Linked DNA regions of Homo sapiens: all the other regions are reported to be linked to region 3. The links are microRNA targets in miRTarBase. Many come from high-throughput screens and were not tested one by one. Region 3 holds a microRNA gene; each other region holds the end of a gene's coding sequence.
What was found. The annotated mature microRNA hsa-miR-548aw reads GUGCAAAAGUCAUCACGGUU and lies in region 3 at 2,058-2,077, opposite strand. An mRNA with a match to its seed (bases 2 to 7 or 8) in the 3' UTR can be bound and repressed. Matches are read on the target gene's strand: a 7mer-m8 pairs with bases 2 to 8, a 7mer-A1 pairs with bases 2 to 7 and ends in A, and an 8mer does both.

Region 1: miRTarBase lists RAB8B as a target of hsa-miR-548aw. Seed matches in the 3' UTR shown: 7mer-m8 at 2,943-2,949.
Region 2: the mRNA of RAVER2 is a reported target of hsa-miR-548aw. Seed matches in the 3' UTR shown: 8mer at 716-723.

The regions. Positions count from the first base shown.
Region 1 is chr15:63,263,245-63,266,411 of GRCh38, forward strand. RAB8B (RAB8B, member RAS oncogene family) reads left to right here. Exons shown (of 8, transcript NM_016530.3): 8 at 283-3,167. The coding sequence ends at 375. Among named protein-coding and RNA genes, the nearest start is that of APH1B, 13 kb to the right of the region's middle.
Region 2 is chr1:64,830,476-64,833,642 of GRCh38, reverse strand. It overlaps RAVER2 (ribonucleoprotein, PTB binding 2), which reads right to left. Exons shown (of 12, transcript NM_001366165.2): 12 at 411-2,804. The coding sequence ends at 2,658. JAK1 (Janus kinase 1) reads left to right here. Exons shown (of 25, transcript NM_002227.4): 25 at 1-414. Among named protein-coding and RNA genes, the nearest start is that of RAVER2, 87 kb to the right of the region's middle.
Region 3 is chr9:132,944,624-132,947,790 of GRCh38, reverse strand. MIR548AW (microRNA 548aw) reads right to left here and starts at 2,084; the gene lies at 2,020-2,084. It also overlaps a transcript of TSC1 not described here and a transcript of GFI1B not described here. RefSeq lists enhancers at 2,458-2,597, 2,958-3,167, 2,570-3,167 and a silencer at 2,778-2,857.

The DNA.
Region 1 (3,167 bases), not on the chromosome of region 3:
ACACTCCATTGGAACTAGAAATAGAAGCTTCCTATTGAATACATTATTGATATAAAAGCTGCTATCGTAAGGGCATTTTCCTCTTTTCAATTCACCATTTCCAAAGAAAAAGACAACATTGGTGCTTAACTAGTTCCCGTTCTAATAAAATACTCTAGTGAATACACATTTCACTAGAATACACATTTCACATGGTATGGTTAGTTATTTTTATTTTTTAGGTAACTGAGGTCAAACCATGAAACTTTTATTTCCTTGGTAACTTCATCTTCTATTTTTTAGAATGACAGCAATTCAGCAGGAGCAGGTGGACCAGTGAAAATAACAGAAAACCGATCAAAGAAGACCAGTTTCTTTCGTTGCTCGCTACTTTGATGAACTCTTTCTGAGAGACTGCAGCACACCTAGAGGGCCCTTTCCTGCTTCTCTGAAAGCACAGGTCACCCAGCCTCAGAATCACACCTCCCGGCTGCTGCTGAGAGCACCACTGAACTTAGACCTCTCAACACAGTATGCCAAGTGGATTCCAGCCTCATGGCCTAGCAAAAGAACAGACTCCCTTTTTCAAACATGGAAGCAATGAAGTGGAGACACATGCAGGACCTAACTCGTTTTTTCCTTGTTTTATTACCTGTTGCAGAAGCGGTTATCTTTCTTTTTTACTTTGCACATCAGTGTTAGCCTTTCCCTATTTCAGCACAATCTTAGACTCATATTTGCACACTTTTGTGTCGTGAAGTTCTAGACAAATTTGTACATGTGGCAATGTTAAAAGAGCATTTACAGCAGAGGTTAATATACTAAAATTAAAGGGTATTTGGTCTGGTTCATATGGTCAAATATTACTGCCTTGGTAGCATTTATTTAAGGGCTTTTTCTTAAATAAGAATCATTAAAGTCATTAAAAAAATTTACTGAAATGCCCATCTTGTCATCAAAGGCCACAATTTCTTTATTTCTTCAGATTAAGAGCTTTGCCTCATCCCCGACCTGTTTTCCAGAGTCTGGGTAGCTGAATGAATCACTTTAAAATGATTACCTCTGCCTAATCTATAGAAACTGCATTTGGAAATCACCATAATCTCATTTTTCCCTGGGGTTTGTATTTGCTATTCTTTCCCATGTTTGACTTAAGTGTAATCACTCTTAAGTAATATTTGAACATTATTATCTGTTTCTATTTGTGAACTTCTTGAGCTGAAATTTTACGTGGGCTGAGAGATATACCATTTAGGGTTTTAGTGCAGCATCTAACTGTGATTCTGTCAATAAGGATATGTAATATATTTTTTCTTAGGTTCACTCCTTAGCTGGCTGGTTTAGTTGTAATACCAAATTCCTACCATAATCCCTGTCTACAAAAGTTAGGTTTAGATTTTAGTTTGCGGAAACCTTCCCTATATAGAGACAGATTAACTTGTTGATATAAATTTAATAGAGCTAGCTCTTGGTAATGGTGAAAATAATGAGTTTTGGTTGGTTTTATTTGGCAGATGTTTTTAGAAATAAAAGTACTTAGACCTAGTGCAGCCTCTAGGAAAAGTCTTGCCTTTTCATTAGAGAAAACAGGACCAAGGTTTCAGTTTTCAAACAGCTGTTGTTGATTGTGTAGAACCCAGTTCCATCTGTTTTGGTTCATTGTTACAGAACTTAGTCCAGTCATTTGGGCTAAAGCCAACCAAAAGCTTAGTTGCCTTTCTCAACAAACACTGGTACTGGTATACTTTTGTAGATGAAACCATCACAAGGTATTTAGTGTTAACTTGTGTGCCAAATTCAGATCACTATGTCGTTGTTGCTCTAGCCTTCAGTGTCATAACACAGGGGGGATAAAACAGAGGGGATGAGGGAAATGAATTCTGTTAATAATTATTCTTCCTGGTATGCCTGTTTTGCTTCACAAAGGCTACTATCATGCTGGATAGATAAGAACAGGAGATGGCAGTGGAAAGGGATTGCTTGTTACCACAGAGAATTCTCTTCAAATTAAGATATGTCATTAGAATGCTTGGACCAGTCAATCTTTTGTACTTATTTGAAAATATAGGAACAATTTAGCAGCTGCAAATATGCCCAAGCTATTTTTAATAGATATACTAAACTTATTGTTGACAAATTTCAGCCTCCTTAATTTTTTTTTTTTTGGTAATTACCTATAGGCTTAAAAGTCATTCGTTGCTGTTCTAGTATAATTAGTAGTTCCGTGATTGAAAGTTTATTGTAATTCTACTATCTTCAAATTAGATACATTTTCAAAAGGAAAAGATAATTTTTTAGAAACATCTTAATATTCACTATTTCCTGAAAAAATCCAAGCAGTTAACGCTTTCTGGATGGTAACAAAGTACCTTCTAAAAGATAAGTGCTATGACACCATGTATGAATGTAATTCTCTTAGTAATTTACCTCTGACTATTTGGTGTCTTAACGCTTTGGTTTATATAATCTCAGGGGTTGTCTGCAAACCAAAACTGACATATTCTGTGGTTAGCTTTTATTACTTTTTTTTTTAACAGAATGCTTTGCTTTGGTTATATTTCTTCTTTCTTCTTTTGTCTTATATGGATTAATAACTAGTCTCCATGAACTTCACTTGAAAGAGCCTGTAAAAGTTAGATGAGTCTAAAAGTGCTCTTTGAAGTAGCAGCAAATTGGGAGTATATGCTCTGTTATATAGAAATAAATTGTCCTTGCTATTTTCTTACATTTAGCTTTGCTAGATTGTATATACATTGAGCTAAGACCTTAGGAAATTCACTTTCTGCATGATAAAATGACCCAATAAATATTCCACTTTGCTTAATAATGTACATACAGTGCATTATTTTTTCTATTTGTAGATGAATTTAATGACAGATAATTGTCTGTTCCCCGCTGAAACTGAAGAAATCTAGTTTTTTTGTGAACATTTTTGTGGTCTTATGGATAAGGTACATGAAGATTTTTGCAGCAGTATTAGTGGTTCAGTGGCTGCACTTTATTAATCAGTGTGTTAATTTTTGACAGTGATTGGACTAGACCTTTTCAAATAGAGTCTGAGGGTATCAGACAGTGAAAATGTGCTGTAACTAAGTAGCATGTAAATCAGTTGATTGTAAAACGTTTCGCTGGGAACTTATTTTAGCTATATTTTACTTCAGACAGATTATGATACAATAATCTACCTG
Region 2 (3,167 bases), not on the chromosome of region 3:
TACCACCGATCTACAAGGGTTGATCCCTGTTTTTACCATCAATCATCACCCTGTGGTGCAACACTTGAAAGACCCGGCTAGAGGCACTATGGACTTCAGGATCCACTAGACAGTTTTCAGTTTGCTTGGAGGTAGCTGGGTAATCAAAAATGTTTAGTCATTGATTCAATGTGAACGATTACGGTCTTTATGACCAAGAGTCTGAAAATCTTTTTGTTATGCTGTTTAGTATTCGTTTGATATTGTTACTTTTCACCTGTTGAGCCCAAATTCAGGATTGGTTCAGTGGCAGCAATGAAGTTGCCATTTAAATTTGTTCATAGCCTACATCACCAAGGTCTCTGTGTCAAACCTGTGGCCACTCTATATGCACTTTGTTTACTCTTTATACAAATAAATATACTAAAGACTTTACATGCATATGCCTTTTAATATTAAGATTTCATTTTCAAAGCATTTCAAACAATTTGCTTACATAGAAAAATAACAGTATAGTTTTGGGGGGAGGAAGGGGTGGGTTACGGTCCTTACTACTAACAAACAAACAAACACCACTTGATTTGCACTTCTTCACTGTTGTGCCCAGTGATTGATAACGGGGCACAGGCCAGTATGGATGGCATGTCCACTGTGCTGTAGTCCAGACACCTTTGTTTGTTTGTTTTAGTTCCTTCAACCTCTTCCTGCTTTGACTGACTGACTTTTTGCAGCTCTGTTGCAAAATTCACCATCTTTCCTTTCTTCTGTTTGTTTGTTTGTTTGTACTATAGTGGAGGTGTGACTAAGCATTGAAGAGGCTGAATGCAACAGGAAAATGGGAAAGAGAAGTGCAGGGCCTGAAAAACCCATTAGTCATCTGCTATATCACTGAATGATGCCTAATTCTTATCAGTTACTTATAGGTAGTATACTTAGAAATTACCTTAAACTTTCTAGCTGTCAGTCATTTTCCAACAGAAGCTAGTATATGCAATAAATTAGACCAAGTGAAATTCTTTACAAAGCATACAACATATGTACCAATTCTAGACTTCATAATTAAAACAGGATATCCACATCATAGTTAAAAATAACAAGTCCCCAAAGTGACGAGATATTTAATGATCTGATTTCAAAAAGCCCCGGATTGAGATCCCAAATTCCCTATCAATTAATTACAGTCTTATAACATAAACAAACTTAGAAATTTCTAGATGGCAAAAGGTTTCTCATGCATTTAATACCAAGGTCTTCAAGAAATGGTGATGTCAAAAGTCATCATAGTCCATAAAGATAAAACTTCTTTCACAAGTAAATTGGGTTAAATAACTGATTTTTCACCCTAACACACTATCAAAAAGAGTGAGAGAGAAAGCAGAGAGTGAGGTATAGCTTATTAGCTCAAAATGGTTATAAATACTGTGACTCCTTAAGACTCCATCAGAAAGTGCAGTATTGACTGCTTTACTATACTATATTGTGGAAATAATAGGGCATTTAGTGATCAAAATAGGCCCCATTCTAGTCATTAGATCATTACTAGTCTACGCTATGAAATGAGCACAGAAACCCATGTTCCTTTCCACTTACAAGTCTGTCTAAAGGCTAAAGGTCTGTCTTTAGGTGAATTGAAAGGAATAGTTGCTATTAGAATTAGTGCTATTAGATCAGGGATCAGCAAACTATATATAAATGGCCAGATACTTGAAATTTTAGGCCATATGGTCTTTGTAGGCCATACAGTCTCTGTTGAAGCTAATCAGTTCTGCCCTTGTAGCGTAAGAGTGCCACAGACAACACGTAAATGAATGAGCATGGCAACGTCCCAATAAAAGTTTATTTATGGACACTGAAATCTGAATTTCATATAAATTTCATGTCATAAGTTTTCTTTTTTCCTCCAACCATTTAAAAATGTAAACATTAGTCTTAGCTTGCAGGCAGCACAAAAGCGGGTGGTAGACCAAATGTGGACCCAGGGTGTAGTTTGCCAAACCCTTTTATTAGATCACCAAAGTTACTTTTCTTAAAATACCTTCTATTTTTCACAGAAGGTATAAATGGTAAACAACATCTTAAAGCATCGGTAGTAGTGGATACCTTGGATATCACTGTCACTCTCTTACCGGGTTTAATTTTGCATGGCTGGTGTGGGCGTAATTGAGTGTGCATGTAGAGCATCTTTATAATATTACCATCAGCACATTTGGTACTTGCACCCTTGTAGTTCTAGGAAAAGTCCTAAAAATCTATAAATGCAATTACTTCTAGGGAAAGTAAATTGAAATGCACATTGGCTTATAAGAAACTCATTCTTCTAAGGCTCAGGAAACAACACTGTTTCCCATTTATTGCTTCAAACTTCTTTTATATATGGTGTCAGAATTATTCCCAGTCCTAAATCAAGGAATATTGGAACATTGTTAGTTTCTCCAATGGATTGTAAGTTAGCACACTGATTAAGATGCATCTGACTCTAGTGGAAAATGTCCTCAATTGATGTCTCTTCTTATTGCTATTTTTTATTTGGCATTTCTGCCTGCTGCACAACACAGTTCCTTCTGGGAAACTATAAACCCGTATTTAAAGGATATGGCTAGTTTGAATGAAGTTAAGGCAGCGATGAACAGCAGAGATACTGCAGAGAACCTTAGGGGGTTATTAGGAGAGAGCTTAACTCAGTATACTCGCTTCTTTTTTAAGTAAGTTTCCATGTAATATGCTCCTGTGCCCTGAGAATGCTGGTCAACACATTCCACTGAACCACCTTCTGGGGCAGAGATGAGATATGATGAGCCTCGCTTTTCATTTCTTAAAGATGACACCTATGAGAAAATAAAATTGCAGCTAGTTTTAAAATCTAAAGTTGGCTTATTCATTAAAGATATTTATAAGAAAAGCATTCCACTTTGACTTGGTGAATATAGAATAACAGGATAAATACCCAAACTATCAAAAAATACACAAACCCCTTTGTTAAATAAGACTTTTAAATTTCTGTATCAACATCGCCTTTGGAATTTCTGCAAGACACAAACCAGTCTCAGCACCTTCACTCCCAACCCCAACTTTTTGGGAAAAGAAAAAATTAGAGCACTGCATGCAGCTGCTTCTGCTGATCACAGCTAGTTAAACCCACGGACTCAGAATATCAACACCGAATGTCAGTATTCCTCTGAAGGAGGAGT
Region 3 (3,167 bases):
GTTACCCAGGCTGGAATGCAGTGGCACAATCTCAGCTCACTACAACCTCTGCCTCCCAGGTTCAAGTGATTCTCCTGCCTCAGCCTCCTGAGTAGCTTGGATTATAGGTACCCGCCACCACGCCTGGCTAATTTTTGTATTTTTAGTAGAGACAGGGTTTCACCATGTTGGCCAGGCTGGTCTCGAACTCCTGACCTCAAGCCATCTACCTGCCTTGGCCTCCCAAATTGCTAGGATTACAGAAGTGAGCTACTGCGCCAGGCCACTTTACTTTGTCTATAAATTTGTTCTGACCCCGGGAGTCTCTCTGAATCTGTTGATTCTAGAGGCTGCCTGATTCATGAATTCTCTTTTTCTTTCTTTTTTTTTTTTTTTTTTGCTCGATTAAATTTAATCTAATTGAACTTGTCTTAAGCTTTCTTTTAACAAGCTCCATGATGGGCATCTCAGATTGGCCAGGCCTGGTCCACCTGCTGTGGCCTGGGGCTGGTACTGTGATTGTGAGGACCATCAGCACTGAAAGAATTGAGGATGGGCGGTTCACCTGTTCAGAAGGCGAGGGGGAGATGTCACACAGCCAAATGCAGCAGATGTCCTCCACCACGTGCATCCTGTCAGCACGCCCGCCTATGGAGGGCTCAGCCCTTTCATGCTCAGACAGGCCGGTCAGGAAGCCCCGTCACAGGGAGGCTCCAGGGTGGTGTATGGAAGGTAGTGGTCTGAATAGTGTCTGTTGAGCAAATGACAAAAATCAACCCCAGAGAAGCAGAAAACATCTAGGTGGCCCAGCCTGGTAAGTGGCAGGAGATGGTAGTAGAGCTGTCTCTGCCTGTCACCTTCAGCCTCTTCTTGCAAGCCCCTGGTGGTCCCATATTGAGGTAACAATGCCCATTCTTCTTCCAGACAGTGTAGAAACAGTGACAATGTGGTTATGGCCCCCTGGAAAGTGAGCAGTTGATGAGCTCTGCTTATGGCTGCTCTCCTCCATGGCAGAATGCATTCCTGCAGGATGAGGTCATGGAGCCAAGGAAGGTCAGGGTGTGGGGGGGCTTCCTGGGTCAGAGCTCCAGAGCAGTGCTGCTCCCCCTGCCCTCCTCCTTAGGTCTCCCATCACTGGTGGTCTCAGAAATCTCTGAAGATTTCAGAAATCTTGAATCCCTTCCCTGGTGTGAATGCAAAGGGAAGAGTCTGTTCCTGTAAAGTAGTTTGCAGATTGGTGGAACTGAGAGAACCCAGACCCTTCCCCGTTTCCCTCGACCTTTCCATCTCTGGACCCCATGCAGACTATGCTTGGGTGGTGACACAGAAGAATTTAGTGTTTGGTGGACCCGTTTCTGGAAGTGATGGATGCTGACAGCTGGCACTTAACAGTTATCAAAAATAACATTAACTGGAGTAGGCTCTGTGCCACTTAGAGCTTAATGACTCACTGACTTCACCCCAAATCCCCATGAACTAGCATTATTATTAGCCCTATGTTGCAGGTGAGGAGACTAAGGCTCATCCAGTTAGAACATGATGGCTGAAACCTACATTCAAACTCTGGTCTGTTTGAATCTAGAACTCTTAGCTTCCCCCCAGCGACTGTGTTAGAACAGAGGAATCATCAGTTCAATTTTCACCTCCCTCCTAAGCCTTCGTGGCTCTAGACGTATGGTTATAAAGGTTGTTCACTGCTCAAGGGCCCAGGAGGGTTTGGGGCTGGTGGATAGGGGCCAAAATACAGCCCAGGGGTGCCATTTTTCTAATTCTCACCAAGGCCCTATACTGACTAGCAGCGGCTCTACCCGATACCATCCAGGGCCTTTTCAGAATTCTGAAGGCACCCACGGTGCTGGCTACTCACACACCTGGCCCCCCTTAACCATGGCTGCCTTGCACTGTGACCCAATTGGTTCCCATGACAAAACCTGTTATTCCCATAACTCACCCAACACTTTTTTGCCCCTAGGCTCTTGCTCCTTTGGTTCCCTCTGCCTGGAATGGCCTTCTCTCCCGAGCCGCCTCGCCTGGTTCTATTAGGTTGATGCAAAAGTCATCGCGGTTTTAATGGTAAAAACCGTGATGACTTTTGCACCGACCTAGTATTTCACAAAACCTACATTTCCTTTAAAACCCAACCTGATGCCTACTCCTTCAAAATGCCTTTCATATCCCACAGTTCGACTTCATCTCACTCTGCCTCCTCTCACAGGGCTTTGTGTTCGTGCTGGATGGAGCCCATCATACTCAGCCTCGCAATAAAGGCCACCTATCTAGTGAGTGAGCATTTACTAGGCGCAGGACTCTGGGCTAAACGCTGTCCATACTTCATCTCCTTGATTCTTCACGTCACAGATGTCATTATGCCCATTTCACAGAGGAAGAAACTGAGGCTTGGAGGACTTAAAGCCTTGTTTCAGCAGGAAACGGAATAAGGCGTTCTGATTTTCAAGCTGTCTCCTATTAGGGCTGGTTTCCCCTAGATGTCATGAGTAGGTGTGAAGTGTGAGCTACTTGAAGGCAGAAGCCAGGGGGGTCCCCCGCAATCCCGGAGGCGGGCTTCTGAAAATGTTTAGCCCAGGAAGGAGGGCTGCCCTGGCCCGCAGCTTTCCGCCCCTTCCCAGGTGAGCTGCAACTCCAAAGCTCCCAAGCAGGCCCTTCACCCACGCGGGCCCCAGCAGCTCCTTGGGAAACAGGATCGCTGCTCTGAGGCCGCCCACAGAGAGACCCTCGGAGGGCGCCACGCAAGCGAAGGGCAGAAACGACTCGGGGGGCAGGGGCAGGGCGCTCCAACCACACCCAGGCGCCGCCAGCTTGTTTACGCCTCTCCGCCGCGTCCCCCCGCCCGCCAGTCACGTGACCGCCCGCCCCGCCCCCTCGGGCTCTCGCGTGGCTCCTCCCGCCGCGCCGGCCCTTCTTTTTGCCTCCTTCGCGGAGTCACAAGATCTCTTCGCAGCCTCCTTTCGGATCCTTCCGCCCGGCCCCGCCCCCCTCCATAAAAACCCTCCTTACTTTTTTTCTCGTCCAACCCACATCGTCAGTTATGAGTGGAAGAGCCTCTTCCTTCCGGCGGGGCTGCCGAGCGCGGCCGTCTATCCTTCCTTTCGAGAAGGAGGGGAGGTCCGGAGGGGGACTCTTTTTCGTGGCGGAGGCCGCCGTCGGCCTTGGCCCTTTCACGACGGGGG